Linked DNA regions of Homo sapiens. The protein of the gene in region 1 interacts with the protein of each later gene in a biochemical or structural test. Each region holds a gene or a part of one and is shown on either strand. Other genes may lie near its edges.

Evidence for each region.
Region 2: the proteins of VDR (region 1) and NCOA6 form a complex in vitro, tested with the Homo sapiens proteins (one study listed by BioGRID).

Annotation. Positions count from the first base shown.
Region 1 is NC_000012.12:47,894,845-47,898,494, forward strand, and holds part of VDR (vitamin D3 receptor), read right to left. Parts: intron 1-3,650.
Region 2 is NC_000020.11:34,815,530-34,819,179, reverse strand, and holds part of NCOA6 (nuclear receptor coactivator 6), read left to right. Parts: intron 1-3,650. UniProt on the Homo sapiens protein: Nuclear receptor coactivator that directly binds nuclear receptors and stimulates the transcriptional activities in a hormone-dependent fashion. Coactivates expression in an agonist- and AF2-dependent manner.

The sequences.
Region 1 (3,650 bases):
TAGTCAAGGACTCAGACTAACTGCCTGCCACACCTGCCTCCACCTGTGGATCCACATGGGGCATGAGGGCGGCAGGACAGGGAAGGCCCGCGGGAGCCAGGAGTTTCCATCCTCCGTGGCTACAACTCTTACAGAATGCAAGGAAGAAGGAGAAAACACTGCGACTTTACCAAGCCTCCAAAAGGAGATTCTATAAGACTGTTGTGTCAGCTGAGATAAATATTTCAAATGTGTTATAAAAATTGTTACACTCTAAAATTACACTCTATAAAAATACTAGCTATTGCATTACTATTATTTTTCCAGGCATTTAAGAATAGGAGAGGAGGAGGAATAAATTCAGGTAAAAAGGGGAAGGCTGTGAAAAAACACCTTGAACGATTGCATGGAGCATGATCCATTCATTCGTTGTCTACCAAGCCCATCCCCAAACTTTCTCCTTTTTTTTGTGCCTTAAGACCCTATCCTCTGTTAGTTTCCTTTTGATTTTTCTCACACAACTTTTCTTCTAATACCTATGAGGAAATACCTTCCTGAGAAGACAGAGTATGGGAGGGAGAGAAGGAGGAGGGGAGAAAGGAAAGGAGGGGAAGGTATTCTTGGAATATCTTACTCTGAAAGCTTTCTTTCTAACTCACAAGGAAGAAACACTCTGTATTATAAAGCTATTATCACATTCTGGGAGGGGTACCTTCTAGTACGTTAGTAAGGAATTCTACAGGAACAGGGTTTTTCCTATCCCACTCTATAACAGTTACCTGTTAAAAAAAAACTACCAGAGGATGCAGTGGAGCCTGCAGGGCAGACCTGACTGTGATGTTTGCTGTTTGCCACCCGTCCTTCCCCAACACCAACAGTGATTACACATTTCATTTTTTTTAAATTGGCTGTCAATGTTTTAGAAATCAAGAGTTTACATTTTTGAAAAAAAATCTGAATGTCCAGCTTTCTATGAAAAAGTCAGATAATCTGGCCACACCAGGCTGAAGCTCCTGCCGGAAGCCTGCTGGGCCGAGAGGGGCTGCTCCCATCAACCAGCGTGTGCTCTCCAGTCCATCTCACCGGGTCTGCATCCCTCCAGCCTCACTCATGACCCACCTGGCCCTGGCCCCCTGACCAGCACACACTGACAGCAGAGCTCACGGTTAGAAGTGCAGGCTCTGGAGGCAGCTGGCCTGGGTGTGCCCAACCCTGAATTCTCCCTACCACTAGCTGTGCAACAAGAACCAATGAAATGCACTCTCTAAGCTTCTGCTTCCTCACCTGTGAAATGAGAAAAATAACACCACCTACTGCATAGTCTGTGAGGAGTCCATGAGATAATCACGTCAAGTGCTCAGCATAGTGCCTGGCACGTAGTACCTGCTCAGTAAACGTTAGTGCTTATTATTGCGCACAATTACTGCAATGACTAAGGAGAATTCATCTGAGTTGCAGCCCAGTTTTTGAAGATGATTTAATGACACAAAGCAATTGCCCTTCAACCCTCCTTTCTTGCTCAGGCACCTGGTCTACAGACAAAACCATCTAGTGAGTATATCTGTGACATGTTAGTTATTGTGTGGAGCAGGGGCACTTCAGAGACAGGATTCAGATCTGTTCTCGGGGCTCGGAGTAGAGTGGGGGGAATGGACGATGACAGCACTGACAGGTGGAGTTACGCACAGAGCTCTCCCCACAAGCCCTGCCCAGGACCACGCAGGAGCTTGGCATTCAGGAGGACCTGGGGGTGGGTCTGACTCTTTTCTCCTTCTCCTTCTAGGCTCCAAACCTTCGGGGGGCTTTGCTAAAAGACACCCAACCTCGAATTAGTTCCACTCCATTTCCAGTTTCCCAGGCTGTGCACGTGGTTTCAACAAAGCCGGTCAGACCTCAAATGGAGTTCATTATAATGGAATTTTACCTGAGGCAGCCCCTCCCCCACTTCTTAACATCATGGCACCCAAGATATGGGTGTGCTTGCCAAAGAGGCTGGGCAGAAGTCACTTCCTGCCCCTGGCAGAAGTCCGGAAATTCAGAGCCGTTTGGAACAAAGAACTCTGCCCCGAAGGTGTTTTCCAGCATCTCCCTGGCCAGATTGGAACTGCCCCATTCACCCTCGTACCACCTGCTGCGTTTTTTCCAGCCCTCCTAGACAGGAAGGGGAGGAGGGAAGACTGAGCTGAATGACCAGGACACTGCAGGAAAGGCAATGCACAAGTGAGGAAGAGAACATGCACTCTGGACTTAAGCCTGAATTTAAATTCTGGTTCTGATTTAGTAGCTCAATGTCTTTGGGCAAGGAATTTAGCCTCTTAATCTCTATGAACCTTGGTTTCCTCTTCTATAAAATGGGTATAATTTTACCAGCCTCGTAGGATTATTGAGAGGCATAAATGAGAAAATGCATGAAAAGCACTGAACATAGTACCTGGAACATAGTGAGTTATAGTAACCATTGGTTATTATGATTGTCAGCTATTACATAATATGGTAACCTCACAAGGGTCAAAGGTTGGTATAGAAAGAGACACTGGGTGGAATTGGGGTGAGGGGATGGCTGGAGAAGGTAGAGCCCTGTCCCTGATCCCAGCACAGGCCTGGGAGCCAAAGTGAGGCCCAGGGCAGAAGCACCTGCCTGCCCGGAGCTGACAGGCACAGACTGGATAGGTAATTACAAAGTTGAGAGCTGAGGTGGCCCATGCAACTGTCCAGCCAGCCACATTCCTTTGTCCCATGGGTGGATGGGTGGTGAATATCTGGCTGTTTATGTGGCTACCAGGATGGTGAGTGTAGTTAACACCTCTTTTCCCCAGTAGTCCTAGCAGGGTATTCGACCTTCAAAGGGAAAGGGATTCTCTACAGGCATTTGGCTCCTTTCCCCATGGCATCGCCTCTGTTCCCTCCACTCCAATCCTCCAGCTACCCCTTGCTTCTCAGGTTAAACAAGTCAAAAGGCCAAAGAACAAGGCCAGACTCTGAAGAGATGGCCAGTAGAGACTACTAAACTTCACCCCATCTCACTGGAGCCCTTAAATGATCAAGAAGCCCAGGACAGACATGAATCCATCACTGCCCCAGCCCTGTGTGCTTTGATTAGCCAGCAAACTCATGGTTCTTATACTTCCATGTCCTTTTCTCAAAACTGATGCCCAAGGAAAATATATATTCCTCCCCAGGTATTAATTGAGCACATAGTATGGGCTCACTGCTGACACCAGGCTCTTGGTTGAACTGAGGAGACCACCAAGTGTTTGGGAGGATGTAGAACCGTGGGATCCCTCAAGCACTGCTGGTGGAAGCCCAGAGAGGAAGGGCTTCAACTGTACTTAGAGGCCCAGCACAGAGCTCTCTCTGAGACATGTCTCAGGCTGTGACATGTATGTGGTCACCTGTACAGAGTGCAGCAGACAGGCACACACATGAGCCAGAAATTGGGTCCCTAGGTCATGAATAATACAACTATTATAGCTAATCATTATAACTGTAGAAACTCATCTAATGCAACTTTTTCATTTTAGAAATGAAGCCTGTATCAAGTGTTGAAAAGGATGGAGAACAATGGAGACTTTCATCCACTGCTGGAAGTGTTTTTTGGGACAACCACTTTGGAAAGCTGTTTGGCACCCTATAGCAATGCTGAACATAGAATTCCATGGGAGGCAGCAATT
Region 2 (3,650 bases), on another chromosome or scaffold:
CCCCCAAACCAGTAAATGACATATTGGGATGGTGGGGGGGATGGCCAGAAATTGACAGATGAGTTTGTGGGCAAGTAAATACTAAAACCTATTTCTAAGGATGAGCCATACTTGATCATAATGAATAGAATGATAAATGAAATTAAAAGATGAGGTGAAATTCAGCTTAGCTCCTTGAATATTTAGGCATCTACTATGTATTAAGTACTGTATTAGAAATTACCACATTGGTGATAGAAAATTAGCTGGCCAGCTTTATGAAATACTGTAGAAGAACTCTTTTTACTTGTATTGTGGAGCTGTTGTCTAAGAGAGTGGTTGGACGAGAAAGGAAATATAGGTATTATTTTCTCAAACATTTGTTGAGCCCTACCATGTATTCTGGAAACTGGCTAGAACTCTGCAAGATACCAAGATGAATCTAGCCAAGGTTTCTATGCTGAGGAATGTCTGTAATGTGTTATGGAGCTGGGATACTAGAGAATGGTACCTGAAAGAGGTGGTCTGTGAACGAAGCTGCCAAGAATAGTTAGTATCTTAATACTTGGAGATGAGACAGTGCTGTATTTTCCAGGCTGAGTGAAAGCATAAACACAGAGGTGGGTATTTAGGAGATGGTAAAGAGTCCACTTTGCTTGGAGAAGAGGATTGTTATAAGGGTGTTGTTGGAATTAAGGGTGGAAATGGAGATGAACAATAGTAACAATAATAGATAAAACCTAAAATAAATAAAACTTAAAAAAATTAATAGTAGTAGTGGCTTTTCTTTCCCCCCAGTGTTCTTTGGGTAGGGTTTTTTTGTTTTGTTTTGTTTTGTTTTTAAATAGAACCAGGGTCTTACTCTGTTGCCCAGGCTGGAGTGCAGTGGCGTGATTATAACTCATTGCAGTCTTTAATTCCTGGGCTCAAGTGATCTCCTGCCTTGGTCTCCCAAATTGCTAGGATTATAGGCACAAGCCATATGCCTGGCCAATGGCTCACATTTTTTGCATGCTTACTATTTGCAAGATAATGTGCTAAGTATTTCATAAGTAGCATTTTATTTAATCCTTACAACAACCTGATGAGGTAGGCACTGGTTTTTAATCCCTTTTTACATATAAAATGAAGAAGAGAGCTAACAATTGATACAGAAAGTATTTGAGTCCAGGTAGTCTAATTTCAAAGCCTGCCTTCCTAATCTCTGCATACCATATAATCAAATCATGGAAGGCTTTGAATACCCATTTCTATTCCAAGCTGGGAAGTTTGAACTTGATTGACTAGGTAGTGGGAAGTCATCAAATGTTTTTCGCCAGTGATGTGATGAAAGCTGTACGTTAGGAAAGGAAGCCTGATTGTGAAGTGTAGGATCAGCATGGGGAGAAAGGAGAGATATGGAGCTAGTTTACTCTCTTACTTCTCACTAGATTGGGTGAGTGCTCCTTTAGGACTGGGCTGGTGTCTGTCTCTGCCTTCCCCCTTCCCTCCCTTCAGCTCCAGTGTCTGCCTATTTTGATGTCTGGTATATTCATTTATTTTTTTAAATGTGATCTTTTTCTACCTCACCTTATTCTAAAAAGGACATAAAGTAGCTGCCTAGGAGCTCAATAAACATTCTGAGTTAATTAGTAAATAACTAGAGTTACATTTAGATGTATACACAAATGAAATACTATGGCTTTGATGGAAGGAGGAATGCAGCCCTAGAGTTGGTCATATGCTTTATTTGATATACAATCTCTATAAAGCAGAAGGCCAGGACCATACCTTTACTTTGTGATGAATTGTGTATTCTATGTCAGTTATAATATTCATTATCAGTTAATAAATTAACTATATCAGTTAATATTAATGAGCACCAAATTCAGAGGGCATTCATACTTTAAACAGATATTTCAGTTTGTATTTAGCATTAACCAGCTGCAACCCCTCCCCCTCCGTCACACACACAAAGGCAACAAAAGTTCCCATTAATCAGCTCCTTTACTGATATTGAATCTGTTGAATATCAGTTCCGTAGTACCCATTTATATACATTTTCTTTTGCTTTTGCTTTTGCTTTTTTGTGTGTGTGTGTGATGGAGTCTCACTCTGTTGCCCAGGCTGGAGTGCAGTGGTGAGATCTTGGCTCATTGCAACCTCCGCCTCCTGGGTTCAAGTGATTCTCCTGTCTCAACCTCCTGAGTAGCTGGGACTACAGGCAACTGCCACCACGCCCAGCTAATTTTTTTGTAGTTTTAGTAGAGATGGGGTTTGACCATATTGGTCAGGCTGGTCTCGAACTCCTGACCTTAGGTGATCCACCTGCCTCGGCCTCCCAAAGTGCTGGGATTACAGGTGTGAGCCACTGCACCCAGCTGCTCTTTTTTGTTTGTTTGTTTGTTTGTTTGTTTTTGGAGACAGCATCTCACTCCCTTGCCCAGGCTGGAGTGCAGTGGTGCAAACTTGGCTCACTGCAACCTCTGCCTCCCAGGTTCAAGTGATTCTCCTGCCTCAGCCTCCCAAATAGCTGGCTCATACCTGTAATCCCAACACTTTAGGAGGCCAAGGTGGGTGGATCACTTGAGTTCAGGAGTTTGAGACCAGCCTGGCCAACATGGTAAAACCCCATCTCTACTAAAAGTACAAAAATTAGCCAGGCGTGCTGGCATGTGCATCTAATCGCACCTACTTGAGAGGCTGAGCCTTCCATCAATTCTTGGTGCTCCTTGGCTTGTAGCTGCATCACTCCATCTTTGCCTCTGTTGTCACATGGCGTTTTCCCTGTATGTCTCTGTGTCCAAATTTCCCTTATAAGGTCACTAGTAGGTCCCACCCTACTCCAGTAGGAGTAACTTCATCTTAATTGATTACCTCTGCAGCGACTCTGTTTCCAAATCAGGTCACATTCTGAGGTACTGAGAGTTAAGACTAACATATTTGGCAGGGATGGGATTGGGGGGCACAAGTCAACACATAACAGGTAGTGTTTGAGATAACATAGAGGCATTAAATTAAAATTTATTAAAATGGAAGGGTAAGATTGCAACAAATGGGATTAAGGAGAGAGTAACCAAAGGAATGATGGACATAGGAAAATGTAAGGAATATTTAGGTAATGAAATAGTGAGAAGTCTGATTTGCTGGTTTGTTGAGGAGTTGTGGAGAAGTGAAGCCGACGTACTTTCTTGGGGCCCTGGATGCCAGGTCTAAGACATTTGAATGTTGCTGAGTGACCAGTGTGTGGGAGCAGGATGGCACTGCGGAATTTTGAAATGGTAGATAATTGATTCAAGCTTTGAGTAACTGAGTCAAGTTTTAGAGACATTCTAATATGATCAGGTGATCATGGATAAGTAAACACCCTGTAGAAAAACAGATGGTCAATGACAACACACCCAGCCTCCCTCATTTTCCTATGCCAGTAACTTTTGCCAGCACAATAAAGAAATCTCTCTTCTGTAAAACAACAAACTTTGAGGGTTTTGTTAGCCCTCTCTTCTTGGTGAGTCATCTGTGGGCATTGAGAGATACATCAGCTTTTCAGGGTCTCCATTCAAAAGCCTCCCCATGGATATTTCAGTGTTAATAGTCATGTCACACTTCATTTGATTTCAAACCATTCTTCAAAATTACCTCTTTTCCATCCTATTCTTTACCTCTTGGTTTTTCTTTGAAACTTCTTCAGT